Regions from separate parts of the Homo sapiens genome. Here regions 1, 2, 4 and 5 are each linked to region 3. Evidence: fine-mapped expression QTL. A gene starts in region 3. Each other region holds a variant in brackets. All regions are shown on one strand. Distances are from middle to middle.

Region 1 (6,264 bases), 39 kb before region 3:
GTCCCAACACACCTCTAAGCGGGAGTCTCAGAGGAAAAGGACACAGAGAAAGGGCAGAAAGAGTATTTTTAAAATAATGGCCAAAGACTTCGCAGATTTGATTTGAAAACATTAATCTATATATACAAGAAACTCAATTAACTTCCACTAGCATGAACCCAAAGGGATCCACACCTAAACACATCATAACAAAGTGATCTAGAACCAAAGAATCTTGAACACAGAAAGGGAGAAGCGACATACTATGTGCAAGTGAGCCTCAGTGATACCAACAGCTGATTTCTCATCAGACATCATGGAGTGAGAGGCAGCCAGATGACATACTCCAAGTGCCAGAAGAAAGACTGTCAGCACCTGTTACTCTACTTCAAAACCATGTGGCCACATATGCCTTTCCTCAATATCCAACAAAACCAAACGACATTGAAATTATAATGATAGAGAAATTAAGACATCCCCAGATAAACAAAAACAGAAAATCTGTCGCTAGAAGACTTGCCTTACAAGAAATGCTGATGAAATACAGAACACTAGATAGTAACTTACATCCTCACGCTGCAACCATGTGAATGGAGTTTTGTTCTTCTAATTGACTGTTACCAGTAAGTAAGAGTCTATCTATTTTTGTGTGTTCATCTTATATTCAACAATCTTGCTGGATATTAGTTCTACTAGTCTATCTGCAGATTTTCTGGAAAATTTTTTTTTTAAGAGATGGGGTCTCACCCTGCTGCCTGGGATGGAGTACAGTGGCATAATCATAGCTCACTGCAGCCTCCAACTACTGGGCTCAGGCAATCCTCCTGTCTCAGCCTCCCAAAGTGCTGGGATTATAAGCATGAGTCACTGTGGTCAGCCTTGGATATTCTATGTAGATAATTATACCATCTGGAAATAACAATTTAGATTTTTCTCTTTCCAATTCTTATGTCCATTGTTTCTTTTTTTTTTTCTTATCACATTATGCCAGCTAGGAGCCCTAGCATACCGAGCAGAAGTGCTAATAGCATCCTCGTCCTTTTCTCTTCAACACAGATGCTTCCACTAAGTATCACGTCCTTAATTTTTACCAGAAGAAAGCCTTCTATTTCTGGTTTGTGGAGTTTTTAAATATATATCATGAATGGGATTCGCATCTGACTGTATGCTGTTGCTGCATGTAACAGATGATCTCTATTTTCCCTTTTATCAGACAATGCAGTCATTTTTCTAATGTTAAATCATCCATGTGTTCTTTCATACAGGGTTTTTAAAATCTGTAAAATCCCTGTGATGGGAGCTTTTTGATAACCTTCCCAGATCCTTCCATTGTTACTGATCTGATTCTGTTCTCTGTTCTTGAGTCAGTTTTGGTAACTGAATTTTCTGGGGTGGGGAGAGGAACCCCACTGCAGTGGCCATCGCACCCCCGGACCTGGTGCAGCCTGTCCACATGCACGTCACAGTGCAGTCCCCTTAGCAGCTCAAAGATGCATTCCAAGCTCTTCTGGCATCTATTGCTACTAATGAGAGATCTGTTGTCAAATTATCATCCCTTCATGCTTAGCCAGTCATTTCTCTCTAGCAGCTCTACACGTTTCTCTGCCTTTGATGTCCTCCAGTGTCATGATGACCTATCTATGTGTGGATACATCACACCCAAGACTCACAAAACTTAGGGGATAAAACATTAGATATCACCAAAACACTGCACCCTGAGCCCTTCCACTCAGTAGAAATAACGCCCTTATTTTGAAGTTGTTTACCACTCTCATAAATGTTTTTATTCCTTTAGTAGATATATATCAATGTTTCCCATGCTTAAAATTGTATCTAGATAGTATCATTCTACGTAGATCCTTCTGTAATTTCCTTTTTTCTCCATTTGATTTGATCCATTTTCACTGCTCTCTGTAACACTTCATTGAGTAAATCTATTGCAATTCATTTATTCATTCTATTGATGAACATTTAGGTTGTTTCTGGCTTTTCTTACTCTAACAGTGCAACAACAAATATTTTGTTTTGTTTTGTTTTGAGACAGAGTCTTGCTCCGTCACCCAGGCTGGAGTGCAGTGGTGGGATCTTGGCTCACTGCAACTTCCACCTCACAGGCTCAAGTGATTCTCTTGCCTCAGCCTCCTGAGTAGCTGGGACTACAGGCATGCGCCACCATGCCTAGCTAATGTTTTTTGTATTTTTAGTAGAGATGAGGTTTCACCATATTGGCCAGGCTGGTCTCAAACTCCTGACCTTAAGTGATCTGCCTGCCTCAGCCTCCCAAATACAACAAATATTTTGTATACACTTTCTTGGGCATCTACTAGGGTATACACCTAGGACCATATCTTCTAGCTTACCAGAAATGCCCACCATAAGCTTTACCCATGTACATGGCTTCTGAGGAAGTGAACACATCCTTTCACTCTACCTCACTCACAGTTATAGCACCATTTTTATTTTTGCTAATTTGATGGTTTAATTTGCAAGCCCTTAAATTACTAGTAAGGTTGAACACCTATTTATATTTA[T/C]TGGCTATTTTGGGTTTCCTCTTCTCTGAACTGCCAGGTCATATACTTTGCCCATTTATTTACTGGACTGATTTGCATATTTATTCAAGAAACCCATCTTTATATTTTGTGCATTGTAAATATCTTTCCTGCAAAAAGCTTTTCTTAGACAATGATGAAAGAATTCTGATATGTAGCATGTCTTAATATATACAGTTATATTCTATATTTTTTTTTTGAGACACAGTTTCACTCTTGTTGCCCAGGCTGGAGTGCAATGGCACAATCTCGGCTCACCGCAACCTCTGCCTCCTGGATTCAAGAGATTCTCCTGCCTCAGCCTCCCGAGTAGCTGGGACTACAGGCATGCACCATGCCTGGCTAATTTTTTATTTGCAGTAGAGATGCAGTTTCTCCATGTTGGTCAGGCTGGTCTTGAACTCCCAACCTCAGGTGATCTGCCCACCTTGGCCTCCCAAAGTGCTGGGATTATAGGCATGAGCCACCGCGCCTGGCCGTCATATTCTATATTTTCTACTAACAATGTTAAAGGTTTTTCTTTCATATATAGGTTCTTATTAACTCCCACCCCCACCTCCCACCTCCTAGAATTGATTTTGTGTGAGGCAGAGATCTAATTTTATCTTTCCTCATATATGGATAACTAATTGCCCTGGCACAATTTATAGGTGTATGTAAATCTCATTTATAATGCCTTCAAACTGCCATATATGCATGTTTAAAGATCTCAATTTTATTTCATTGGTTAGTCTACACTTAGGCCAATTAACACATTGTCTTAATGGTCACAGCTTTGTAATATATCTTGATATCTGATGGATAATTTCCCTTGCTTGTTATTCTACTTCAAAATTGTTTGACCACATATGCCTTTCTTCAATTCTGGAAAATTCTCAGCCATTATCTTTTCAACTATTCTACTCAAACATTCTCTAAAGTCCTTCCTTCTGGATTTCCTAATGGGCATTCTCATTCTTTCCTCTATGACTCCTAATTACACTTTTATACTATCCATCTTTTTATCTCTCTTGCTGTGCTTGGGGGATTTATCCAGCTCTATCTTCTAATTCACTAATTCTGTCTTTAACTGTGTCTAATCTGATGACTTTTTAAAAAAACTTCAATGAACATATCATGCACTTTTAGTTCTTTTTAAAAAAACCTTCCAATTTTTTTTCAAACTGTCTTCCTTTCTTACTATGGCTCTATTTCTTCTTTAATCATTTTATAAAATAACTACAGGATACTTCAGAGACATGGCAGGCTTGGTTGCAGAACACTGCAATAAAGTGAGTCACACAAATTTTTTGGTTTCTCAGTGCATATACAAGTTTTGTTTACAATATGCTTGTAGTCTATTAAGTGTGCAACAACATTCTGCCTAAAAATATGTACACACCTTAATTTAAAAATACTTTGTTGTTTTAAAATGCTGACACAGAAGCATGAGATGAGGATATGCTTTTGGGACAATGGCACCAAACAGACTTGTTCAATGCAAGGTTGCCACAAATCTTCAATGTGTAAAAACCACAGTACCTTCAAAGCACAATAAAGTGAAGTGCAATAAAATGAGTTGTGCCCGTACTTTATATCCACCTTCAGGTTCTTCAATTATTTCAGATTGTTAGAGACTTTGATTCTACTGTTTATTTCTTGACCCCTCTTCTCACCATGGTGGTAGATTTGTTTATGTGCTTATTTTTCTAGTGTGATCTTATCCTCCGTGGGGGTTGTTTTATCTCCAAATCTCCTACACACTGGGTGGTGGAGGCATGCCTACAGGACAGTTCTGCACCTGCTGCCACCCAAGGCCTTCAGGACTTCAATGGGCTGCAACTGTTTTTATGGCAGGGCTTCTACTTTTGGTTCCTGTATGACTGAGATAAAATAAACTTGGAGCCCATACCCATGCATGGCCTGGTATTGTAATTTCCAGTCCCCTTTTAGGGTACAATCAGATCTTCAGGCTCTAAACTTTATGCAAGGATCCAAATTCTAGCTCCCACACCTTTGTTAGGCCAAAACCACATCTATCTCTGGACGTGAGCATTCCAGTTCCCAGCCCTGGGTGCAATCTAGGACCAAACCCAACAAGTACCCAGACCCAGGAACGGCCACTAAAGAGTGTGTTGGTCCCAACGGCACTACTTTTGTTTTCTCTCTTCGCCTATTACGTGATCAGCTGTGTGTTTTTTTTTTATCAGAGTCTACCTTGAGTCTCTGCAGCAGGAGGGGGACACATCTGTGTTGGTTTTATCTAACATGTTTGTAGGAAGTCTAAATTGAACTTGTTTCTTTTTTCTTCTAGTCATCTGAAGCCCCTCAGCTCCTTCAGTGCCAGAAAATGACCTAAATAACAGTTAAAAATTTTTTTAAAGGTAGTTTTTCAATATCCATATTCCAGAGAAAGTACTCACTGTCAGCTACTGCTAGATGCTAAATCTGAAGATTTTGTCAGTGGTCTATTCATACCCATCTATTCTGGGATTCGTATTTGGCTATACTGACACAGCCAGACTCTTCCATTCCCAGCTTATTCCCTCACAGTGTGAGTAAATCAGCCCTGTGTCTTAGCCAAGAGCTTCTCACTGTGTCCGGGGATGAAGTCCACAAAAACCCGCACTGTCACTGCCACAGTTCTCATAGGGTGTTCGAGCCTGACGCTGGGCCGCCAGTCTTGGGGAGTGATGCCGGCATGCTGACTGCAAACACACTGATCAGCCAAAAAGAGCAGAAAGCAGAGGGGGCTCCAAGCAGAGTGCTCAGGCCCCTGCCTCCCCATCAACCACGGTGCATGGCAGTCCAATGGCTTAGCCCCTGGGGACCTCACTTTCCTTATCTGTAAATTGACAGGGTTAGACCAATGAACTCCAGGATCCTTGACAAACCTGGGGGTAGAAATGCATGGAGCACAACTTGATTCTTACAGAATGATCAATGAAGTTCCCGTTGATCCCTCCATGATTGTGTTTTCTTCTCTCAGGACAGAAGAAGAAAGAACTGACAAGGATGCTTGCTATCAGCTGTGGCCGAGACAGGACACAAAGAGCAGGGCACTGCGCATCGATCTCTGTTCATCGATATCAGAACGTTACATTTCCATCTTTGGTCCCGTCCCCAGCTTGACACTCGGACCCGCCCTAGCAAGCACAGGCAGTGTTCTCAGCCGTCACTGCAGGCACCAGAGGAGGGCAGAGATCACTGGGTTCCAAGGCTTCCTGTTCTAGTGCAGTATTTATAGATGATGTAGGTGTAGAAAGCAATGACCAATAATGTACAAATATGTAAACAAAATAAACAGAAATACTTTAAAGGTAACCCATTTGGAGATAAAAAGAAATACAAAGAAAAAATGCATCCATTTAGAATCAGAATAATCATACTTTGGCTCCTCCTGGTGTCCCTACAAGGGAAAACTGAACCAAAACAATAGGTTTGGACCAAACACCTCCCTTCCCCTGCCCTCAATTTCTACTCCTACGTTGGCTGACTCCACACACACAGACATGCACACACACTACATATGTACACAGACACACACATGCACACACACCATATATACCACACACACAAATGTTGTCAGGCAATAGATTTCAATGTCAAAAAGTGAATAATACGGAGGCTTATTAAGACTGCTCCTTTGCTATTTGCCCTCAATGAAAAAAAAAAGAAAAAAAGATAAGGCTAATGACAATGCTGGTATCCAGAATCAACGTGGGGAGCGGAGACTCCATGGCACCAGGAAACACCA
Region 2 (6,264 bases), 46 kb before region 3:
GTGGCCAGGGATGACTCTGGAGCCAGGGAGGTGGGGCTGAAGGCCAGGATGGATGCCAGGGCAGCTGTGACAGCAAGTCAGGGGGTGGGTGGAGGGCGGCTGCCAGGGGACAACAAGGCCACGGGCAGGACCTCTGTTCACACGAGGCCAGAGTAGGATGGGACTGAGGTGTGGACCACACCTAGGAAAATCTGGAATTTCTGAGCCTTCTATTTCATGGCCTGTACTAAAATGGCTGAAAACACCAAGAAAATGTTGCCATCCCCCTTTTTAGGTACCCAGTCACAAGCTCCTCCATTCCCTTCACAGTCTGGAAAATCCAGCACCTGGATAAAGCTGCTGGTTCTCCACTGTGGTGGTTAATATCAAGTGTCAACTTGATTGAAGGATGCCAAGTATTGATCCTGGGTGTGTCTGTGAGGGTGTTGCCAAAGGAGATTCACAGTTGAGTCAGTGGACTGGGAGAGGCGGACTCACCCTCAATCTGGGTGGGTACCATCTAATCAGCTGCCAGCTTGGCCAGAATAATGCAAGCAGGAGAATGTGGAAAGACTAGACTGGCTGAGTCTTCCAGGCTTCCTCTTTCTCCCGTGCTGGATGCTTCCTGCCCTTGAACATCGAACTCCAAGTTCTTCAGCTTTTGGACTCTTGGACTTACACCAGTGGTTTGCAAGGGCTGTTGGGCCTTCAGCCACAGACTGAAGGATGCACTATCGACTTCTCTACTTTTGAGGTTTTGGGACTCAGGCTGCCTTCCTTGCTCCTCAGCTTGCAGACGGCCTATTGTGGGACCTCACCTTGTGATCATGCAAGTCAATACTCCTTAATAAACTCCCCTTCACATATACACTTATCCTATTCTGTCCCTCTAGAGAACCCTAATACACCCACATTCTGGCCAGTTACACCTCATCCCTTTCGTCCTTGTCACCTGGGTCATCAGGTTTTGTGAGCTTTGCTTTTCCAGAACCGAAGGCCTGCTTTGGGGTGGAGGGGCTGTGTACCAGGAGGGAGGGCACTGACACTGAGGAGTCACACTGTGGGCTAAGGGCAAACCCCAAGGGCAACCTCCCCACCACACAGATGGGAACCAGAGGCTCCAAGAAGTCTAAGGACTCATCAAGGTCAGGTGGAGATGGTCGGTGGAGATGAGATGGGAACTCACGTCTGTCTGACTCTGAAGCGGGGGCATTTTCCTTGGGGCAGGAGGATGCCCGGGGACTGTTCTCTACAAAAGCCAGCTTCGTATGAACAGCTGGAGGGACGCGTGCCACGTCAGCTACAAAACACCCACCTGACACCGGGTGGACACCTGCTCTCTCCATGAACGAGGGTGAGAAGGAAGAGTTTACACACAAAAAAGAACATGCTGTCCATCTAAGAGTTTTCTTTTTTTCCCGTAAAAATTAGACGTGTATCTCATTTTGGAAAAGAGAAGAACAAACTAAAGCTCTTCATAAAGATCTTTCGTAAGGCTACAAACGCCAATACCTTCTCCCTCTTTCCCGGCTTTGGTTGTTTGGCACGAACTGGCATTTTTTGATCGAGTCATAGCTCTGGGATCTTACCCAGGCTTAATGAAGACGTGTCCTGTAATTCTGGATCATCCATATCCCAGGTGGTGCTGTACTGGTTTCAACACCTTGTCTTCCTCTGCTCCATCTTTCCCGTATGGAACTCTCCCATGACCGAATGCCATGATGACTTATAGAGGGGGCTCTTCCCACATCAGTGCCGAGGACACTCCCTGGAGGGAGCACATTCCCTGCAGATAACGTGATGCGGACAGGAGCTTACAAACAGGACATCTCAGGAAGCTTTCAAACCCAGAGAAAATAATGCCAGCCTCACAGTCAGACGATACATTGAAAACCCAAGAGAAAATGAGTAATTTCCACTTGAATATAAAAGGGATTCTGTCTCTGATAACTTCAGTTGGGGAACAGATTGGACACTAGCATTTAGTAAAATTCACTCCAAGATTAGAACATTTTAAATATAAAAATAAGCCTTTTAATGAAAGAGTGTGTAAATAGCCCTGGGTACATCCACAAAACAACGAAAAAGCATGATGGCGGGGCTGCGTCTGGGTGGGCCTCCATAGGCCATGAGTGCCCAAGCTCATAGGAAGTTTGATACAAAATTTTTTGACTTGTAAATAATGCAATTGATCTCCCTCTCAACCAGGAACATTCGAAAGGAGGCTGTAGTACGTAGTAAGGATTTGGGGGCTCTTTTGAAGTGATGTGGATTCTCCTGGCTCTCGTGCAGAGGATGGTGGATTTACTAGAATGAAAGGACAGACAAACCTCCCCCCACCCACAGAGGACACCGGGCTGCTATTTGAACAGGTAAGTCCCCAAACCCATCTGTAGGAGATTCACATTTGCTGCAACATGAAGGGTTCAAAACCAAAACTGGGACCTTCTTTTTTCCAGCTTGCATCTTCTAATGATTCTTGGTATGGCTAAAATGTCCCTACAAAGATAAAACAGCACATTGCGGGAATTAATTTACCTTGGCCAAATTAATACACCTTGGCTATATATACATTTGCCAACACAAAGCACTACATTTAAAATGACTACTTGTAAGTGATAACTTAATTCCTGAGGTATCTGTTTATAGATATATTAATATATATTACATTATAATTAAGATATTTAAAGCATTTCCAGTAGTGACTGGTACACAGAAGACTTTCAATAAATGTTACTTCCCTTCTTTCCTATAGTACTTTGAGGAATAGCAAGAGAATGAAAATACTATTCATATATTCATAAAATAAATTTTTAAAAAAATGTCTAAATATTGAATCAGGATTCAGCACAAAAGCAACACAAAAGTGGCTCCTCTCACCAGGGACATCCGGGAGTAAGAGAGGCTCACGGCAATCCCCACCAGGGCCCCTCCGGCCCCCAACCCATTTCCTAGAGCAGGCCTCTCATCTCCTCACCTTCACCCGCAGAAGTAACTGGGAGAACCAGATGGCTGGGGATAGACAGTTGGCCAGACACTGTACCACTGTGCAATGAGAGGCTCGTCAGCATCTAGGAATCTCTGTCACACTTGGCCACATATCCTGGCACATAGCAGCGTGGCACTCTGGCCCACAGGCAGAGACAGGCACAGCCTCCCTGTCCTGAAAGGACTCCACCATCAGGGCAACAGGCTCCTGAGCTGGCTGCAGCCCAGGAAGGGTGGGGTAGGCTGGGCAGTGGGGAAACAAAGAAGTCCAGTTCTTGATGATGTCCCTGCTTCCTGGAAGGCAGGGGCTGCCCTGACCCACAGGGACCAGACAGGAGAGACTCTGAACTTGCCTGGAGGGATTATCAGACAGCAGAGTACTGACGTCAGATACTGATGGCTCCTTCGAGTGATCAGAACGAAATGCTACAGGAGCCAGGGAAGACAGCACGTGACCCTACCTGGTGAGGGGCCTGAAGAAGGCTTCACACAAGACAGGAATCTCGGGTGGGCCACGAAGGAGCAAGAGAATCTTTGGAGGTGGGAAGGTATACCTCAAGCAGTAAGCACAGTACAAGGTCAGACTGTTCCAGGATCGGAGAAGCTGTGGCGGCTGGAGCAGGGGCTTGTGGCGCACATGGCAGGGATGGGAGCAGCTGTCTGGGAGGTCAAGCAACACTGAGATTTGAAGGGCCCTGGATGCCATGGTGAATACAGGTGCTGCATTTACTCAACAGGCCTGCGCTTCCCAGAATATTCCCAGAATCACATGTGTAGCAGGTATCCCTTTACAAAAGGACATTTTGGAAAC[C/A]AGTTTCTTCATGCAATTCTCGAGGTCTTTCACAGTCTAATGGACATCAAGTCTCTAAAAGGCAGGGGAAAGTATGTAGCATTTCCTGAACTTCTCTGGACAAGAACCTGTTCTGTTGGGAGACTCTGAACGCAGGAGCCCAGCTGGCAAATCACGGCTCTGGGCTGTGCACTGAAGGGGCAGAGTCAGTGGAAGCCTGGGAGGCTCACTTGGAGGTGCCGTGGGGTGCGCAGACCCAGGAGGCAGCAGGCGTCTCTTAGGGAAGAGACAGGGGAACTGCAGGGAAATGCTGTTTAATTCATTTCGTCATCACCAACCACAGAACTTGAAAAACACAATGATTTCTTTTTTAAAAACAGCTATTCACTGAGGTGACTTATTCCTGACGCATCCTTCCCTGCTCTGTTCAAGGAGGGGTATACCTGGAAGACATGTTTGAGACAGAAAGGATAAAACGTGGGGACAAAGAGCCACATCAATTTGAGGACTGAGACCTGGATTTTTTTTTTTTTTTTTTTTTTTGAGACAGGGTCTGGCTCTGTCACCCAGGCTGGAGTGCAGTGTCACAATGATGGCTCACTGCAGCCTCAGCCTCCTAGGCTCAAGAGATCCTCTCATCTCAGCCTCCTGAGTAGCTGGGACTGCAGGTGCTTGCCGCCACACCTGGCTAATTTTTTTTTTTTTTTTTTTGGTAGAGACAGGGTTTCATCATGTTGTCCAGGCTGGTCTAGAACTCCTGGCCTCAGGCGATCCACTCGCCTTAGCCTCCCAAAGTCTTGGGATTATAGGTGTGAACCAACGCAGCTGGCCAAGACCCAGAATCTTAGACACAAAGGAACCTTTAGAAATTGCTCTTTAGACCTTTTGCCCCGGTGTGATCTCAAGCCCCCGCACCATTCTACTCTCTCTTAGACACAAAGGAACCTTTCGAAATTGCTCATTTAAACCTCTGCCCTGGCATGATCTCAAGTCCCCGCATCATCCTACTCTCTCTTCTTGACACGTCCCAGTTTGTCTCTGTCTCTCTCAAAGCAAGCAGCCCCCAGTGACACCCAAAGAGAAGCCTCGTACTGACCCCAATCTAGACTGGGGCTGGGCCAGTGGGACCTCAAGTCATCAGACTCTGGGACTCACAGATGGCCCACACCAGCCACCAGAGGCAGGTCTGACGAGGAGCATCAGGCTCATTGTGCCTCGACTGTGAGTCTTACTGCAGACAATTAAAATGCCTTGCCTCCTGTTTGGTCAGGCTTGAAAAGTGATTTGATCAGCAATAATGGGAAAACCCTTTTCCACTTTTGGTAAAACACAATTCCACGGAGCAAGAGAACGATGTTTGTGAAGAGGGAGTTTTTATTTGCTTCTAACCTTGGAATGAAAAGGGCCCAGGGCCAGCTGCTTCTGGTTGCACCTGCTGCCCAGCGCCTTCTCCTCCACACCCTTGGGGCACACGTGTGTGGCCTCAGCCCTTCTTTCATCTCTCACTGCAACGGCTTCTTTGTGGGGTTTGCCACCACGCATGAACTCCCTCAAAACGTCCCCCTTTCCTTTTTGGAAGCCTTCCTCGCTGGGCTCTCCATGACCTCTCTGTGGAGCCGGAAGGACAGCAGGGCCAACAGGGACACACCTCACTCCATCTGGGACCATTACGTGAAACACCCAGATTGATGCCCTCACCTCTGGTACATCTAGCTGCAAGTCATCCCTGTGGACTGGGGGAGGAGAGAACTGCACCCCACATCTCCTTCCCTTTTTGCTGAAGCCATTTTTCCTTAATGGGCAGAGCCCTGGCTGTGGCTAGCTCTCTGCTTCTCCCCGAGTACCTGTGTGACAGGATGACAGCAGCCCTCTGTGGGTTAAAGATGTTGACGATTCCTGCCATTACCATCTGCCAGAGGAGTCATTTTTTCTTCCTTTAACAGCATATTCGTCTTTACTACCACAAAACACTGTCCCTTCTCAAGAGAATTCTACAAAGGCCTACAGTAAAAGCTTGGACCTCTAAGACAATCATCCGTCTTTACCAGCATGCATCTTTGTATGATGAAATGTCTTTAGAGCACCTGCTGTGCCCTGTGCCGAGGGACACCTGTCACACCCTTGCCTCATCTTCCTCCCTTCCTTCTTGGAGGCGTCAACACTTGAAAGTGGGCGTGCACCCTTCTGTACCAGTCATAGCCCCAACAGGAAACAGATACATGGGCGAACAGGAGACCTCACAAAGGGGTTATTACAAAAGGATTTGTCACAAAGTTGTCCTGGGAGCCGCGAGGGACAGTGCAGGGGCCAGACCCAAGGGATAAAGGGCAGCAGCGGCTACCAGAACCTGGAAGGAGGAGATGACACATGCTGCTGAGTGACACTGGCCAGGGGACATGGCCACATACCCTGCCCTCGTTCTCCAGCCTCCTGTTGCCTGCCCCAAATCCCCCTAGCGGCTGAGCCCAAAGGGAAGTGGGAGAGCCCAGGTGCCCCCGGCACCCCCT
Region 3 (6,264 bases):
CTCAGAAGTTTTAATATGCCTCCTTTGGATAAAATGGATGGGTCAATGCCTTCAGAAATGGAATCCAGTAGAAATGACACCAAAGATGATCTTGGTAATTTAAATATCCCTGATTCATCTCTCCCTGCTGAAAATGCAGCAACTGGCCCTCGCTTTGTTCCTCCACCTCTTGCCCTAATCAGAGGTCCACTGTTTCCAGTGGATACAAGGGGCCCGTTCATGAGAAGAGCACCTCCTTTCCCCCCACCTCCTCCAGGAACCAGGTTTGGAGCTTCTCGAGATTATTTTCCACCAGGGGATTTCCCAGGTCCACCACATGCTCCGTTTGCAATGAGAAATGTCTATCCACCGAGGGGTTTTCCTCCTTACCCTCCCCCAAGACCTGGATTTTTCCCCCGACCCCCACATTCTGAAGGTAGAAGTGAGTTCCCTTCAGGGCTGATTCCGCCTTCAAATGAGCCTGCTACGGAACATCCAAAACCGCAGCAAGATACCTGGCAATATTTTTGCTCTCTTCAAAAGTAATTCTGACTGATCTCATTTCAAGTAACTGCTGTTACTTAAGTGATTACACTTTTGCTCAAATTGAAACTTAATGGAATTATAATTCTTAGGATAGTATTTTGTAAATAAGGATGATTTAAATATGAATCTTATAAGTAAATTATTTCCATTGTATTTTATTCGATAGTATAACTATTTTAATTTGATTAATCCACTATTATAGAAACAACAGTGGGAGTTTTACGTATGTAATCTTGCAGGTGGGGAGGCTTTAAATTCTAAAGGCTGTGTCTTTATGCCAACAACTGTATTTACTGTAGGTGTAGACAAATGTGAAAGTAACTTTATGCTTAAATAAATTTTAGTTGATTAAAGAAATTCAGATAATCCACATGATAACCATTCAATCACTAGCAGTATTTGCCACGTCTCCACTAAACGTCTCAAAGTCGCAGAAAACACAGCATGGCCTAACAGGAGCTCTTCATTGCCTCCACACCACTCTTCTCTCAAGGAGCAGCAGTACTGCCCTCGCAGGGCTCAAGTCAACCCCTACAACACCCTGGACTCCACTCTTCACATTACCCTGCCACTGCCACTCCATCAGTGAGACTGTCTGCTCTCCCTCTACACAGTCACGTCTCTCTAGTGTCACCACCCCACTGCCCTCTCTTGTGCAAACCTCTGCCACTTCTCCTCTGACACACTACTGTAGCCACAAGCCTTGCCTCCCTGCCTGCACCCTGATCACACCTTTCATTTTCCAGGGCAGTGAAGTAAGGTCTCAACACATCAGCATAATCATGTCACTTTTCTGTTTGTTTTTCTGCCATCTGGTAGCACAGTAGCAGTGAGCCACCCTTGGCTATGCAGAGGAGGGTGACACCCAGGGGATGGTGTGAGGGGAAGGAACTTAGGTCCCCGCATATCCCCTGATCTGGGTACCACCAGCCCTACGCCTATATTTAGTGACCCTGGGCTCCACCCCACTGGACTGCTCACGTCCATGCTGTTCTGTGCAGGAGAATCAAACTTCCATCTTGTTAGGGCCAGCGTGCTTTGAAGGCTCTTGGTTACAAAAGCACCCTAACCTGCTATATTACTGTACTATACTATTACTATACTACATTACTATACCATATTATTACTATATTACTGGGGTAACCTGCACCCTAGTAATATAACAATTGGTACCTGGAGGAGGGGTGCGGCTGTGATAGAAACCTAAGTGGTACTGGCTTCACGGCCAGGCAGTGAGTAGTGAGGAAAGAGATGGTGCAGGGTAGAAAGCTAGTCATTCCCGCTACGCAGTAAAGACATCTAAAAAAATGCTGCCTGTATTAACTGGGAAGACGGATCCTGCACTTACCAAGCCTGTGTAGCTCTAGAAGAAAAAAAAAAGCAAATATGCGGTATGTTGGCTGCTCACTGCTGCCCCTAGCGAGGAACTTTGAAATAAACGAGGTTAAGTAAGAACTGGCCAATTTGCAAGCAGAGGTGGAAGATAAAATACAGGAATGCCAAGCAGCTCTGTCTTCCAGCTCCAATCCTGCAGTACTTCTTTCAGTGCCCCTAAGACGCTAAGCTCCTTCCTCCAACACTGTTTTTTGTCACCTCCCATCCTGCCTACCCCCGGTCATCCTTCAAGTCTCACACATACCTGACTTACCCACGCACCCTGGGATCTTGTGCAAGTCTCCCCATTACCATCTCATCTTACCCTCTGCTCATCAGTTAATGGACTCAGCCCAAGAAGCACTAACACGCTCAATGCCGGGTAATTTTCTGCGCGTGTTCGCTCCCCACGTACTCGTCCCCCAACACCCAGCCCTGGGCCTGGCACGTGGCAGGCGCTCAGTGAACGAGACTCAGGAACAGTCAGGTGTAGACGGCAGGAGAAGACATGACACGGATACCAAGCACCCGAGGTCCTGCAATGAGTCTCGGCCCATGTTTTAGGGAGCCTGGGTCTGGAGCCCCAGTGAGCGTGTGGGTCAGGAAGGTGCCCGAGCTCCGCGCCCGACCGCGCAGGCGCGAAACCGGGAGAGCGGCGTCACAACCCCGCCCTAACAGGCCACGCCCATCACTGGCCACGCCCTCCCAGGGACGTACGCGAGCGTGCGAGTGTCTTGGGCCAGGCCTCCTCACAGGCAGGGCCGCGCCGGCAAAAACGAGGCGCGGTGGGAACCCGCCCAGGGGCCATCCGCCCTCCCGTCCCTAACGCCCAGGCCCCGGGGGCTCACCACGTCCCCCGGAACCTGCAGATCCTCCGCCCTCCGCTGTCGCCAGCGGCCGAGCGCTAAGCTGTCCATGCAGCCCCAGGGTCAAACCCTCCCGGCATCTCAGGCCTGGCCGAGGCCCGCGCACCACGCCCCCTTCCGCACAAGGCCCTGGGGAGCCAATAAGGAGAGGGAGGGGCGGGACGCCGCGGGAAGCGCGAGAGCACCAAGGCGAGGACCGCAGGCAGGAGTAGCAGAGACCAGAGTCTTCTGAGACTATTGGGATGCTGTGGGCGTTGTCCGTCTGCCCCAAGTCATTACTTCGCAGAGAGGTCCCTGCATATCTCTGCTTGTCGCTTCTCCCTTCACAGGAGCAGCCGTGGGGCTCTAAAGAAAGCATTCTTTCAGGATCCCGCCAAACTTTTGACAACACCCCGTGGATCGGCTGGAGGAGCGCCCGCCTCCTCTGTCTTATGATTGGTTGTTAGGCCTCGTGGGGAGCCGTCTCCCTGTGGCTGGTTGGCTAATAGATGGCGCAGCGGGTCAATTAGCTTGAGCGAGACAGCGGGTGTTTCTGGGAGTTGTGGTCCGCAGGGCTGCCTCGCTTCCGGGTGGGAGCTGCTGTTGCCGCGGTGGGAAGACGCAGAGCTTTCAGGCCAGCCCCGCGCGGCTCACGGCTTTTGTGGCTGGTGGCTGGTGGCTGCTGGTTGGGAGGCCCCGGAAGGACTTCTACTCCTCCGTAGGCTGGAGGGCACTAGGAGGTCGCAGGTGCTGAGCTGCCGGGGCCTTTGGGCTGTGCTGAAGGGGAAAAGCGCAGCCACTGTCGGGAGTGTGTGCTGTGGAGGCAGTTGCCGCGGTGATGTTCGCTCCGCCTGGCCCCTGCCGGGGATTCAGCCAACCAACCCTCAACAGCCGGCGGCGGCTCAGTCTCTGGCCCGGCGCGGTGCTGAGCACCACTGAGCCCTCATCTTAGGGCACCGAGGCCCGGACTCCTGCAGCCGCATGTCCAGGCCCCTCCTGCCTTAGCACGGAGCTCCCTTGACTGCTCCAAACAGCCCAGACTGGCGCCTTTTTTGGATAAATTAAAACGGGGCCAATCCGTTGCCAGCGATTGGCTAACGATGGGTACACGACCTAGTACGGGCCAGGGAGAAGTAAGCGAGGTCTGTTGAGGCAGAGTTTCGGGAAAGATCTTCTAGTTAAAAGGGGAGTTGGGTGGGTGGGGGCTGTTTTCTTCCTGTTGTCCTTGCCCAGTGTAAGTTTCCTGGAGCTGCAGCAGCCTTTTTGTCACCATGAGGGCAGCTGGTGGGAACCCTAGGAAAGCAGGAAATCACCTAGAGCCGGAACAGCCTGAGCCTCTGAACCAACCCACAGCTGACTACCCGTCACTTTGTCGTGTCTCTGTGATTTGAGTCCATCATTCTGCTGCAGTTGAAGGTATCCTTTGACAAAGCCCTGTTCTTAACCATTATGGTGAAACGCATGAATCCCTCTTCGGGCTATTTGCTGCATGATCCTCAGCAAATTAAATAGTTAATCTCCCTCAGTTTCCTCATTTATAAAGGATAGGATGATAAAGCATAGAGATCGTGAGGATTACATGAGGCATTTACCTAGAAGATACTTAGAACAATGCTGGACACAAACTAAGTACTTAACAAATGTAACATTTCTCCTATTAGTTAGTACTCCTAAGACTAATTATGCCACCACTGATTCACAGTCCCTTATCAAAAACCTTTCAGGCCAGATGTGTTTGTGAAATTCAGAATTTTTTGAATGTTTAAAAAAGGTGAGATATATTGTATGCCCCCGTAGTCAAACAATGTTTCTATAGCAGAAATGTGTGAGTATTCACAAATATTCACCCTAAGTGGGATATATAAAGGTTGTAAATAGGGCCAGGCACAGTGGCTCATGCTTGTAATCCCAGTACTTTGGAAGGCCAAAGCGGGAGGATTGCTTGAACCCAGGAGTTTGAGACCAGCCTCGGCAACACAGTGAGACCCCCGTCTCTACAAAATAAAAATAACAAAATTAGCCGGGCACTATGGCGCCCACCTGTAGTACCAGCTACTCAGAAGGCTGAGGTGGGAAGATTGCTTGGGCCTGGAAGGTTGAGGCTGCAGTGAGTTGGCTGTGATCACACCACAGCACTCCAGCCTGGCCAATAGAGTGAGACCCTGTCTCAAATAAAATAAATACAATAAATAAATAAAGGTTGTAAATAGTCTCATATCAGTTCAAATGAGTTTACTCCAAGCGTGGGGAAAAACTAATTTGGAGGACTTTCTGCATTTCAGAATTGAAAATAAGGTATGTTGTAGGCCTCTCAAAATGCTTGTCTTGCAGTTTAGATTAGATGACTTGCTTTGTTACCCACTTTTGATTCGCTGGCCTTTATACTGATGGCTGCTTTTCAGATGTGTATAAGAACAAAATTTCAACAAATTTAGTTTCAAAGATCTGATTGGTTTTTAATAGCATTGCATGCACCAGGCAGTCTACAAGATAGAAAGGTGCTCCAATGAGGACCGAGTGGGTGAGTTTGACAGGCAGGAAAAAGTGGAGGAAAGCAGGAAGAATGAACAAATAGCAGATCAGTCATTTCAAGGTTACTTTCCTTATAGAGGTGTAGACGAAATCTTGGTGTAATGTAATTTGGCTTTCATCCCTCTCCTGATTTCTCAGAAGATCTTACAAGTAAGCAACCCAGGTTTCAGTTTGGTAGCATGAATCCTTAGCATTTAGTGACTCCAGTTTTGGTCTGCTGTCTTTCTTAAATGGATGCATGAGGCAACCATTGGGTACTGGGGGGGGGACTGCTTAGCTTAGGAATGAGATACAGCAATAGGTATATTTAGAAGGATGCAGTTTAGCTTAGCACAGTATTTACCAAGCATCAGTCACTTGGGTACTAACTGCAAGATGTATGCTAAACCTCTCCTATTATTTACATAGTATATTTATTTAAATTCTCAATATCTTAAGTTTGAAAAACTTTAAAAATAATATGTGACATCTATAAAGTGATGGTTTGAATGCTCACTATTTTAATATGTTAAATAGATTAATTATTAGAAGAAAATATGGGAGGTCAGGCACAGTGACTTATGCCTGTAATCCCAGCACTTTGGAAGGCCAAGACAGGCGGATTGTCTGAGGCCAGGAGTTCAAGACCAGCTGGCCAACATGGCAAAACCCTGTCTCTGCTAAAAATACAAAAATTAGCCAGGCATGATGGCGCATGCCTGTAATCCCAGCTTTTTGGGAGGCCAAGGCAGGAGAATTGCTTAAACCCTAGAGGCGCAGGTTGCAGTGAGTCAAGATCACACCGCTGCACTCCAGGCCTAGGCGACAAAACAAAACTCTATCTCAAAAAAAAGAAAGAAAGAAAAATTGGCCAGGCACAGTGGCTCCAGCCTGTAATCCCAGCACTTTGGGAGGCCAAGGCAGGTGGATCACAAGGTCAGGAGATGGAGACCAGCCTTGCCACCATGGTGAAACCCTGTCTCTACTAAAATACAAAAAATTAACCAGG
Region 4 (6,264 bases), 71 kb before region 3:
CCGCCGTATGTTACATGTCAAAGAACACTTTTAACTAAGCACTGCCGCTTTCCTCCGGCTGACTTCACCCAGTTACTTACCCCAGTAACACTGCCGGCAGCCCACTTGCATCCTAGAGGAAGTACTGGATGAGCAAGCGAAACAAGAGAAGGCTCACTCCCAAGCCCATCGTTCACAAGCCCTGCCTGCTGTGGGTGGACCAGGGTGCCCGGTCTCCAAGGGAGTGGCCCTGACTCTGTCCCCTGTCCTTAGCATGTCCCTTCTTCCCCTCCAGCCACCCACCGAGGGAGGTGCCACTGGCAAGGTGTGCACACCCCAGGGAGGGCAGCCCCACCTGTGCATCCTGCTGAGGGCAACTGTAGCTCAGCGCCACTGAGGCTAGAGCCACAACAGGAGGCTGTGCACTCACAGGGACAAAAATACCCCAAGGAAATCAATGCGGGCCTTATTAATATCAGACCCATACGTGACAACTGTCAGACAATCGGTCAACAAGGGGCCTCGTGTCTGCATGATCCCAGCTAACCCACTGTGATCTTCATGAAGTGTCCTTCTGGGGGGTCCGGATCTTCAAATATGAGGGGAAGACCCTTCCCTTTTATTAGCAGCTAAGCTCTTTATACTTTTCCCATATTGCGGCAGGTTAGAAGTCTAAGCTTTATTGTCTTATGTTATTGAAAATCCAGATTCCGGCAGGCGTCTCCCTCAGGTCAAGCTTTGTCTGCGAATACATTCTCATTTTTCCATGTACAGAGACCGTCTGGAGAGGGGCAGAAAAAGATTATGACTGTAATATACTTAAATCCAATTTATTTGCCTGGCCAGAAACTTCCACCCTCCACAATTGCTTCCTACCCAAGATGCTTCTTTAATTCTTTCTTGACAGGGAGTAACATGCGGCGGCCTCTTCCAGCAGGTACAGGCACAGAGGGAGGCATGGACCCTGCAGCAACTGGGCCAGCAGGTGACAGGTGGCCTGAGAGAGAGGGCCAGCCGCTGACTGAAGTTTCGGGTTCGGGACTGCTCATTTGTGCATGAGAAGTGGGTCCTCAGTTGTATGTTGTTTACCGGGAGAGAAATGCAGTAAATGGAGAATAACAGGCCGTTGTCCAGGCAAGGCCACCCCAGCCTGTGGCTCCCTTGCAGGCCCTGGCTTACACTTCATCTCATCCAGGAGCATCTGTCTTGGGGGCCCCTGGGATGAGGGTGGGCCCCACAGCCTCACTTAAGGTCTTGATGAGCCTGTGTAACACTTCCCTGCAGGCTTACCTCTGATATAGGCTCACAATCCGGGAGGAAAATGGTTTCGGGGGATTATTTTATTAATTGGCGTTTGCTCGTTTTAAATGATGGATGTAAAGGGACTGCCAGGACAGACGGAGGTGTGGGCATCAAACACCGCCCAGGCCCTTCCCCACCCCCCAGGCTGAGCCATGCCTGGGGCCATCCTTGGCCTTAGCCTCCCTGGCTAATGAACCTGGGACTGGGCTGCCCTCCCAATTATCATCTGCTGGCCCTGCCTACAGCCCACCTCAGTGCAGCACAGAGCACAACCATTAAGCACCGACTGTGTATGCTTTTTCCTGCTAAGCTGGAGGAGGCGGAGACGGTAGCAAGGCCGGAGGGAGTGATGGGCCAGCAGGCTCTGACCACAGGGCAGGGGAGTGCTGCACTGGGCAGGGAGGACGCAGGGAGGGGCTTGACTGATAATGTGTGGAGCCACCGCTCTTCCCAGTTTGCCCAGGATGTTCTGGTATTGGTGCTAAAAGTCCTGCATCCCAAGAAAGGCTCAGCCTCAGACAAACCAGGACAGTTGGTCCCCCAGCAGCTGGGAACAGTGACACTAGTCCAGCCAGTGCTGCTCTGTCACCCCAGCAGCTGGGAACGGTGACACTAGCCCAGCCAGTGCTACTCTGTCCATCTGTGTATTGGCCAGTGTCTCCAGGGAAAGAGAACCAACAGGATATACACAGATACATGGAGAATGATTTCTTATGGGGTCGGCTCATGTGATTTTGGGGGCTGAGAAGTCCCACACTCTGCTGTCTGCAAGCCGGAGGCCGAGGACCACCGGTGGTGCTTTCCAGTCCAAGCCCAAAGGCCTGAGAGCCAGGGGAGTCCGCCACGTGAGTCCCAGTGTGAGTCTGAAGACTGGAAAACCAGGAGCACCAGCATCCGAGGGCAGGAGAAGATGGGCAGCCCAGATCAAGCAGAGAGAGCAAACGTGCCCTCCTCATCTTCCTGTTCTACTCAGCCCTCGATGAGGTGGATGCTGCCTGCCCACACTGATCTCATGAGTGTTTCATGCAGTCTCCTGATTTCAAGGCCTTTTCCAGAAACATTCTCACAGACACACCCAGAAATAATATTTCACTAGCTATCTGGGTATCCTGTGGCACAGCCAAGTGGACCCATAAAATTCACACTCATGCCCTGCAAGTCAGAAGATGCCCTGGGCCTGTTTCTCATTCATACGCTGCAGGTGGGGAGGCTGACCTCTGCCTCTAGGAAGGCTCCCGACGTCTCATGCGCTCTTCTCCTTGGGGCAATGGCCTTCCCCAAGGGTACTGTGGATGACTCTGAGGAAAGCACAGTGGGTGACTACCAATTTGCTGTCCCCAGAGAGCTACTGGGCATGAACCATTTAGGGACGTGGCAAATCACACAGCAATGTGCAGGGTTTGGGATAAGAAACTGGCCAGCCTGGGGAAGCTAATTCTGAAATCAGCAGTGGGAGGTCTGGAAGCTCCATTCTCTTGGTATCTTAGTGAGGATGCCCCAGGAGGGGACCTGTCCCCTGCCATTCTCCCTTTCCATGGGCTGAG[T/A]GCACTCATCAGCAGGGAACATGAGGAGCTGGGGTGGGAGTCATCTGAGCCTGGATGCCCCCTCCCTAAGGGAGTGCTGGGAATTTCAGCAGCCAGCATCAGTAGGCCTGGGATCCATGCCCCCAGCCCCCAGTCCCTGCTGGGCTGAAGGCACCCCAATCCCAGCTGGCCTGTTGCTGAGCAGTCCAGAAAGAGCACCGAGGACCATATCATGACATCTGCCTGTCCCCGTATATGGACAGAGCAGTCTGATCCCTAGCCTGCCGTGCAAGCGTGGTATGAGTTCTGGGTCTCTCCAAGGTGAAGATCACTCGAAGGCTTCTTTTGCAAAACGGCTTAGGAAGTGGATCATTTGGTTCATAAGACACTGAGTACTGAGTCACATTCTTCCTGCACATCAGAATAAGGCAGCAGCAAGTCTCCTGAGACTCTCCACCGCACCCTGCAGCCTCCAGACAGTGAAGCGCCTTATTCAAGAGAGTAGAATGGGACGGCGTGCTGGCTCACGCCTGGGGAGGCCGAGGTGGGTGGAGGTCAGCTGAGGTCAGGATTTCGAGACCAACCTGGCCAACATGGTGAAATCCTGTCTCTACTAAAAATACAAAAATTACCCGGGCTTGGTGGCGGGTGCCTGTAATTCCAGCTACTCAGGAGGCTGGGGCAGCAGAATTGTTTGAACCTGGTAGGCAGAAGTTGAGATCACACCACTGCAGTCCCGCCTGGGTGAAAGAGTGAAACTCTGTCTCAAAAAAAGAAAAAAAAAAAAGGTAGAATGAAGGGACCACAGTGGCAGGGCCTATGGCTCAGTGAGGGGCACCAAGGGACATGAGGCTTCAGGAAGCTACACTGGCCTCCTTGCTTGGGGAGCACTCCCGGGCATGAACCGGCATGGGAAGGGACACTGGATCTTAGTGAGGGCCCCCGCCACCGGCACTCCCAGACCTCCAGGAGGCCCTGACAGGTGGGTGGGAGGGGCTGCGCCATCCTAATGGTATCACCTCTTCCCTCCACTGAAGGGCAGGTGGGTTGAATCCGTTCTACTTCTCAGGAGGCCAAGCTCCTGAACGGCCGTCTTGCCAGGGAGAAGCTGTGTTTGAGATAAAATGCAAAGCAGCGAGCACCTAAATACCGAGGCTCTGGTTCCTGAGTCCAGATGGTTTCCACAAACCTGAACTTTTAGGCGTGTGGACAGGTATCACCAGCTTGACCTCTACTGAGTCCCCTCCGAAGGTCAGGGGACAAGGCTGGGACAGCAGCTTCAGGCATGAATCTAAGCTCAGAGTCAGTACCAAGGAGGCCATGATGGACCAAAAAGCAGGGGCATTTCAAATAGTGATAGGTTTTGCCAAATTTCTTCCACAATGATTGAAACTCTTTTTTCATTGCTACCAATGGTGACTGAGTGCCTATTTTCCAACATCCTCACCAGCACGATTATGATTTTTAAAACATGTTGCCAACTTGATAGTAAAATGATATATCATAAATTCGATTTGCATTTTTAACTTATGAGTTTTAACACTTTTGCTGTAGCCAAAATTTGAGAGGAACTTATGTGTCTGTCAGGGGGATAGCAGCTATGTGAATTACTGTTCATCTTTTCAATGTAGCAACACATGGCTTTTAAAATGATGAGTTCCATCTGTGCTGATGAAATGTGTCCATAGGAAACACTTTCAGGACAAATTAAGTGAAAAAAACTTGTAGGACTTTTATGTATAATTTTAATAAGCTCTGCACACACACACACACACACATGCATGTACACACATGCACCCATGTGCATACTCTCACATGAACACGTGTAACACACACACACACACATGCACACACTCATACAATTACATATGCCCTATGTGTACACATAACCACATATGTACATGCCCATGCACACCCTAAGCACACATTCACATGCACACTCATGCACATTATGCATGCACACACGTTCATACATACCCAAATATGCACTTGTGTACACACGTGCACACCCACACATGCACACTATGAACACACAGCTACACATTCATGTGCACACCCATACATACACACACAGACAACCCCAGGCAGAGCTCTGTGGGCTTCATGTGGGAAGAAGGGAATGATTATTACTTTCTGATTCAGGGCTAGACTGTTTAGGCTAAATCAGAAAATGTGCATAGAGTTATCACGTACATGGAACGATCATTCTGCAAACGTTAACCACTTTCACGCCGTTTGTTAGCTAACTTAACTGACAAAGGAAACATATTAGAAGAATAGAAAATCTGCTAATTTGATTAAACTTACATTCTTAGAAGAGTTTGTGAATGGATAAATATGACGAAGTTCCTTTGGCTCACTTCCTCAGAAGAAACATTGTGATCGATTTCACCATCGTTTTCTCAAACGGTCTCAGTCCTGGACAATTAGCTGGCGTGTTTGCTGGTTGGAGCGCGGAAGCCCTTTCTGTGCTGCCCAAGGCAGCAAGCTCAGCCCCTCGGATGGGAGACCTCCCTCAGCTCTGGCCCACCCCTCCTCGCGGGCATCACTCTACTGTTAACACCATGGGCATCTGAAATCAGTTGTTTGCTGTCAGGTTTGGATCCACCTCTCCGTCCTTTGATCCAGAGCTGCCGAAAGCCACATACTGTTTTCATCACCTCAGCCAACGTCTGGAGAGCCTATATTCGTATAGCCAGTGTGAGAAAGGTGGAAACTGAAAACACAAGTAGGGAAAGCAACGCTTGGAAAGGAGGTGGGCCGTCACGGCTTGGAGGAAACTTGAAAGTGAACTGAATATCAGACTCTATTAAGGAATTATGGATCATTTTGTTAAATGTGTGTATCAGTCGTGGCAAAATACCCTTATCTGTTAAAGACACATACTGAGGTATTCAAGGTGGAATTACGGATTACCTTAATACACTCCAGGAAAAAACTCGGAGACAGTGCGGAAGCAAGCCTGCAAAACGCTGATGCTCACTGCAGCTGGGTGAGGGGCGTGGAGGCTCACTGGCCTAGCATGCTTGAGTATGTTTGAATTTTCCATAACAATATGTTTTTTAAAATAAGAAAGTTAAGCAGCTGATATAATTAAAACACCAACAGATGAGACAATGCTGCCGTAAGTCTCAAGGTTACCGCAGGGAATGCTTCATAACCTAAGTGTGTTTTCCCAAGGAGTTATACGGCAAAAAATTGATCATCATTACTTATAAACATGCTGGTATTCCTGGAAAATTGAAGAGAACGCGTTAACATATTAAAGCAAATTGGAAAGGTTATCAGCTGGCTAGACACAAAACACACCAAATCTAACAGTCCTCCTAAATATCAGCCATAACCCACTGGAAAGTATGATTTTTACAAGATGCCCATTACCAAGACGGGCAGGTGGGAAAAAGCCCCGCCCCTCTGTACTGTGCTTCTCTCTCTGGGCAGCTCAGCAACTTTGCTCGTT
Region 5 (6,264 bases), 27 kb before region 3:
ATGAACACCTATGAGCCGAATAATACAACCATAACCTTTATCAAACAAAGACTACAGGAGATGTGAGCAAACACGGTTAGAAACATACTAATAACAGGAGGTTTCATACACCATTCTCAGTACAAGGCAGAGCAAGTACACAGAAAACAAGTAAGGAGATAGATTTAAACAACATAATCAACCAAGGTTGACCTTATGGACATATATATTGAACTCTGTACCCTGATAATAGAGTATACACATTCCTCTCAAGAACTCACAGCACAGTTACAACTGATGGCATTAAAGGAAAAAACAATGATTTCTATAGGGTAGAAATGTAGCCAATACTTTCTGATTATAATGCAATAAACTATCAATTATTAACAAAAACAAAAAAACAGAAAGGCACTTCCACCTGGAAATTTAAGAGTCTTATTATTTCTTAGGTCACCAACTGAGAGGAAAGAATTTAAAAAAAAATTACAATGAAAACACTACATATCAGAATCCATGAAATACATTTAAAGCAGTAATCAGAGAAAAATTCAACTCTTGGATAGGATAACCCAACATTATAAAGATGACAGTTCTCCCTAAAAATTAATTTGTAAATTCAATATAATCCCAGTAAAAATCCCAGTAAACTATTTTATAGAGTTATACTAGTTGATACTAACGGTCACAATGAAAAACAAATATGCAAGAAGAGCCAGGAAAACCCTGAAGGAAAAAATAAAACAACTCCTGGACACGAAAACAAACCATAGACACTCCATAATTAAACACAGTGGCACACAAGGAGACAAACAGACCAGTGTGGTAGCATTAAAAGTCCAGATATAAATCAAAATATATATGAAAGTTTGGCTTCAAATCACTGTGATAAGGATGGACTTTTTATACATACATATATGATCTTCTTTTTTTTTTTAGAGATGAGGTCTCACTATGTTGACCAGGCTGGTCTCACACTCCTGGCCTCAAGCAATCCTCCCTTCTTGGCTTCCCAAAGTGCTGGGATTATAGGTATGAGCCACTGTGCCCAGCAGGATGGACTTTTTAATATACGGTCCCAGGACAACTTGGAGCCATTTGGAGAAAAGAAATTTAGATCTGCACCTCACACCATGACATGGTTTGGCTGTGTCCCTACCAATCTCATCTTGAATTGTAGCTCCTATAATTCCCACATGTTGTGGGAGGGACCCAGTGGGGGATAATTGAATCATGGGGGCGGTTCCCCTACACGGTCCTCGTGTTAGTGAATAAGTCTCACGAGATCTGATGTTTTATAAGGGGCTTCCCTTTTGCTTGGTTCTCATTCTCTCTCATGCCTGCTGCCACGTAAGACGTGCCATTCACCTTCTGCAATGATTGTGAGGCCTCCCCAGGCACACAGAACTTTGAGTCCATTAAACTTCTTTTTCTTTATAAATTACCCAGTCTCCAGTATGTCTTTATCAGCAGCGTGAAAACAGACTAATACAACCACATACAAAACCAAACCAGATGCATTAGGGACCTGAATGCAAAAGATCTAATTATAAAGAACTATGCAATTCCTAGGAGAAAATACAAGTGAATTCTCTAATCTTGGTGTAGGGAAAGATTTTCTAACTATGATTCAAAATACAGAGGCAATAAAATCAAGATTGACAAGTTTGACTATATGAAAATAAAAACTTCTGTAAGGCCAAACAAACAAAAAAATCCTAAACAACATCAAAAGATAACTGATAAAAGGGGAAGAAAAATGTTTGCAATATATACCACAGAAAAAGGGTGAATAACCTGAATATAAGAAACTGTTACAAAAGCTGAGCAAAAAAGGACCAAAAACCTGAAAGATAAATGGAGAAAAGACATAAACAATTTAAAAAAGCTATTAAAATGGTCCTCAAACATGAAAAAAAGTGTTCAAATGCACTCATATTTAAAGAAATACAAATTAAGTCAACATCAAGATATCATTTATCATCAGAATGGCAAAAATTGTAGAATGTGGTGTAGCCCCTGTTGGTGAGGCTGCAGGAAAACAGGCACCTCCTGCTTTGCTGGTGAGAATGCAAATTCTTGCAGGGAAATTTGGCAATACAAAGCTATATGCACATTTTTTAACCCAGCAATTACAACTCTAGAATCTACCCAAAACATACACCTCCAACGATATGGGAAAAAAGCACATTTGCACAGTTATTCAATAGTGCAATATATTGGAAACAACCTAAATGCCCCTACACTGGAGAGTGGTTGGATAAACTATGGTACATCCAAGCAACGAAGTACTAGGCAACTGAGAAAAGGAAGAGGAAGATTTCCATGAACTGGTCTAGAGTGATTTCCAGAATACATTGTTAAGTGAAAACAACAAAGTGCAAAAGAGTATCTATAATATGCTATCCTTTGTGTAAGAAAGAAGGGGTTATAAGAAAATGGACACTATCTGCTCATTTCTGCAAAAGAAATACAGGAAGGATATTTGAGAAATGAAAGAGACTGCTTTCCTACAGAGAGTGGATAGGAAAGGGCTGGGGAACAGGGTGGCATGGGAACAGAAATGAAGAGGGAGTGTAGAGCTCTGCATTAAAGCACCAGAGTAACATTTCACATGCCAAAAAGTGAGGGAAAAATGTAAGTAAACCAAGACATAGGGGGAGAGGAACCCAAGTGGAATACAAAAATAATGAACCTAACTACATTACAAATAAGTAACATAGCCACACTGAAAAGAACTACCCCAAATAACTTTTAAAAATACTATTTTGGGCCAGGCATGGTGGCTCATGCCTGCAATCCCAGCACTTTGGGAGGCCAAGGTGGGCAGATCACAAGGTCAGGAATTTGAGACTAGCCTGGCCAATATGGTAAAACCCCATCTCTACTAAAAATACAAAAAAAAAATTAGCCAGGCGTGGTGGCAGGCACCTGTAGTCCCAGCTACTTGGGAGGCTGAGGCAGGAGAATCACTTGAACACGGGAGGTGGAGGTTGCAGTGAGCCAAGATTGCACCACTGCACTCCAACCTGTGCAACAGAGCAAGACTCCATCTCAAAAAGAAAAAAAAAACTATTTTGACTAGAAACTCAAACGCTAAATAAAGACGACAAAAAGCACTGTATAGAAATCCTGTACTCTAGCTAGTAAATGTGTTTATTACAGGGTTAGCAATTTTTGAAATTACTTTATTGGCATTGGATAAATAAGTAAATACACTGTAAATAACAAGAGCAAAGTTTCTCACTGTTTAAGAAATAAGCTACAAATACAGAAAAGGGAGAGGCTACAATGAACCCAGTGGTGTTGCATTAGAATTTTTAATACATATCCAGACAGAGATATAGAAATATATAAAGATATGTATGTGTGAGTTACTGTGTGTGCAGGTGATACACACACACACACACACACACATACATATATATATCCTAGCTGTGTCCACTAAGGACAGTGGCATCCTAGTAGCAAGATTACACTTATCACCTAGAAATTGGTTTCGAAATACCATTTTCCCTTAAAAGGAATCTGGACTCCATGGGAAGCAGCTGATTCAGGGAAGGAGTAGGGAAAATACAAGATGAGCCTCAAACACTTCATAGGCCAAAAACTTAGAAAGTTCTTGTAAAATGAGGGCATGTCAAAAAGACAAAGGCATACACCTGAAGGACTTCCTGTTGGCCAAAGCTGGAATGATTTAAGCAATAAAATAAATAAAAAACAGCACTGGATAATCCACAGAATAAAGTAAATGCCTATTAGTCTACCCATATCAAAAATAATTGAGTAAATAAATAGCTGAAAAGGGAAAGGACTTCCTTACAGTTGAATTCTAATTAACAAATGCAAAAGGAAAGAAGGAAATACATTAAGTAAATACCACAGTAAAAATTATTGCAGGCAAGATCTAATAATAGATGCTAAAATTAGGAGGCAAAAGTTTAAGGAGAAACTGGATGTTTGCACAGCCTCAAACTATCTTCCCCAAGATT[C/T]GTATTAATTGTAAAGAGAAAAATAGTAACTTTACCGTGGATAAAACCATCGTAATCAAGTGACAAGGTTAACAACAGCAGTAATGGGACACAATACCATGAACCCTCCTCCGTACAACGTACCAAGATGGCACAACATCACTTCTGCAGTACTCATGCCAAAAATGCGCACCCTGACTCTAATCATAAGAAAATGTGGGACAACAAAATAACTAACCAATAATCACTAAGTGTCGAGGTCCTAAAAGACTGTCAAAGTGTCACAGATTGGAAGAGAGGAAGGAAACACAATAACTAAATGCAATGTGGGATCCTGGGTTAGATCTTGCAACAGAAAAAGGATATTAGAGGAAAAACTGGTAAAATGGAATAAGGTCTATAGTTAACAGTACTACACCAACATTAATTTCATGGCATGCTAACTATACTAAGATCATTAACAAGCTTAAGTGAAGGATGTATATGAACTCTATACTATGTTTTTGCAACCTTTCTGTATGTCTAAAACTATTTCAAAATAACAAGTTTTTTAAAATGAAAAAAAAATATCTTGCATCCCTAATGTGAGAGAAATACTGATCTAAACCAAATTGCCTTCTCACAACCTCAACCCACTGTTTCTAATTATTCTCCTTTGAGCAACATAAAATAAACAAAACCCCTTGTGTATGAGATAAACATTCAGATATTTGATGATCATTCTCAGACACTTTGGAGGCTTGTTCTCTCCAACCAAATATCCCTAGTCTCTCTCACTATTCCATTTCAAAGATGTTCTTCAGACTCTTCATATCCTAGACACCCTAGTCCAGTGTTTCTAAATTGCCAATATCCCGCTTAAAATAAACCACGCAAAATACTTTCAATGCCATGTAACTAGCAGAGTAGAATCACCACTTGCCACTGTGTTTGCACAGGAGAAACCCACACTAGGTCAACAGCCCCAGCAACCACATCACACACAGGTCCATGCGAGCTCACCTCCCCTGCAACCCCCTCAGCTTCTCCACACAAACGTACTCTCTCATTCCTGGGGCTTATTAAGTCGTCTTTGTCTTCCTCTTTTTCTTCTTTTAATTTAACTGTAGGCTCTCCTATGTACACTAGTTAAATCTGATTTCCATGGAATATGTATTTGATTTGTAGCATATCAAAATATATTCAATCCTTATTCTGCCATATATTACAGTAATCGTATTAATCATCCTTAGGACTTTTGCAAATAATGCAGCCTTCTATGTCTTCACCTAAGTTGGATGACAGTTTGAAGAACTAAGACCAAGGCTTTCAATCTCTGGTTATTCAGGATCTGCTCAATCCTTACAGTGCAAAAGGAGGTGTGTTATGTTAAAACTGGTTTGCTGTCAACTTTCAATCACCTGGATTAAAGGGGAAAAGTGGAAATATTAAGTATTCCCCACATAATTTTACAAGTTTCAATTTTCCCCCATCAGTAACACCATAGTCGGCTAATAGCAATAATATTATTTCCCTTCCTCTTTTCTCAATAACACAGGACTTACTCAAAAGGAAAGCAAACAGGCATGCATGAATATGAATGAGAACCTGTACTTTCTGGATGAAATTTACAACACTTATGAAACTATATTCTACACCTTTTCTGTGTGGTTGAATGGCCCTTGGCACATTAAGGTCAGCAGACTTGTGATTATCTGCAATGAAAAGCTGACATTCTTCAAGGGGCGCAGGGGGCTGAAGGGCCAGGGTCCCGACAGCCTGTAGTAGGAGAAAGGAGAGCCAAGCCATACTCTGCCACCAAGGCGAGCAGAGTGTGGGTTCTAGTAGGGAATGTGAGGATGACATCTCAGTGGCACTCAGCCAGCACAGTGAATTAATTTATTCATATTTTCTGTTACTTACTGTGGATTATTGAGAGCTGACCACATACGATACTGATCTATACACTTACTTGGGAAATAGTTCAGTTGTCATGGATGGGCCTGGACCAAAGAAAAATGACTGCCACAGAGGCATTTACATCTGGGGCTGCTTACGTTGAACGAGAAGATCTGTCAGCCTTCGCAAAGGCAGATGAAGGCTTATGCCAAGCTAAAAAGACACTTGTACTATATGAACGAAATGAAAATCCTAAGTATACACAAGGACCCCATTACATAACAATAACTAGAATAGATCAAGTGACCAGCATCCTCATCAGAGAAAGGTGAAGCAGGAGCGTGGCCGAGAAATAGACGCTGTTTCAAACGATGCTAAATTAAAATAGCAAACAGGGATGGTGCTGCCTCAATGATAGAAACACACGAAGCTGCCACAG

The links. PIP is the estimated chance that this variant, and not a neighbour inherited with it, causes the effect. A credible set is the group of variants that fine-mapping cannot tell apart.
Region 1: its variant is the best candidate, but not a certain one, in a credible set for the expression of C10orf143 in blood mononuclear cells (TOPMed, PIP 0.65).
Region 2: its variant is the best candidate, but not a certain one, in a credible set for the expression of C10orf143 in whole blood (TOPMed, PIP 0.54).
Region 4: its variant is the best candidate, but not a certain one, in a credible set for the expression of C10orf143 in testis (GTEx, PIP 0.60).
Region 5: its variant is the best candidate, but not a certain one, in a credible set for the expression of C10orf143 in whole blood (INTERVAL, PIP 0.86).

The regions. Positions count from the first base shown.
Region 1 is chr10:130,068,918-130,075,181 of GRCh38, forward strand. The region is part of intron 3 of C10orf143 (chromosome 10 open reading frame 143); the gene reads right to left. Among named protein-coding and RNA genes, the nearest start is that of C10orf143, 39 kb to the right of the region's middle. The variant T/C (reference allele first, on the strand shown) is at 2,511.
Region 2 is chr10:130,061,906-130,068,169 of GRCh38, forward strand. It overlaps C10orf143 (chromosome 10 open reading frame 143), which reads right to left. Exons shown (of 4, transcript NM_001355042.2): 4 at 1,991-2,478. The coding sequence ends at 2,449. Among named protein-coding and RNA genes, the nearest start is that of C10orf143, 46 kb to the right of the region's middle. The variant C/A (reference allele first, on the strand shown) is at 3,779.
Region 3 is chr10:130,107,957-130,114,220 of GRCh38, forward strand. C10orf143 (chromosome 10 open reading frame 143) reads right to left here and starts at 2,874. Exons shown (of 4, transcript NM_001355042.2): 1 at 2,748-2,874. The coding sequence starts at 2,816. It overlaps LOC102724883 (a long non-coding RNA gene), which reads left to right and starts at 3,337. Exons shown (of 3, transcript NR_188169.1): 1 at 3,337-4,160; 2 at 5,362-5,426. It also overlaps the pseudogene CTAGE7P. RefSeq lists enhancers at 1,079-1,338, 1,929-2,038, 2,199-2,378, 3,239-3,568, 4,049-4,178 and a silencer at 2,569-2,948.
Region 4 is chr10:130,037,252-130,043,515 of GRCh38, forward strand. It overlaps a transcript of C10orf143 not described here. Among named protein-coding and RNA genes, the nearest start is that of C10orf143, 70 kb to the right of the region's middle. The variant T/A (reference allele first, on the strand shown) is at 2,826.
Region 5 is chr10:130,081,282-130,087,545 of GRCh38, forward strand. All of the region lies in intron 1 of C10orf143 (chromosome 10 open reading frame 143), which reads right to left. Among named protein-coding and RNA genes, the nearest start is that of C10orf143, 26 kb to the right of the region's middle. The variant C/T (reference allele first, on the strand shown) is at 3,969.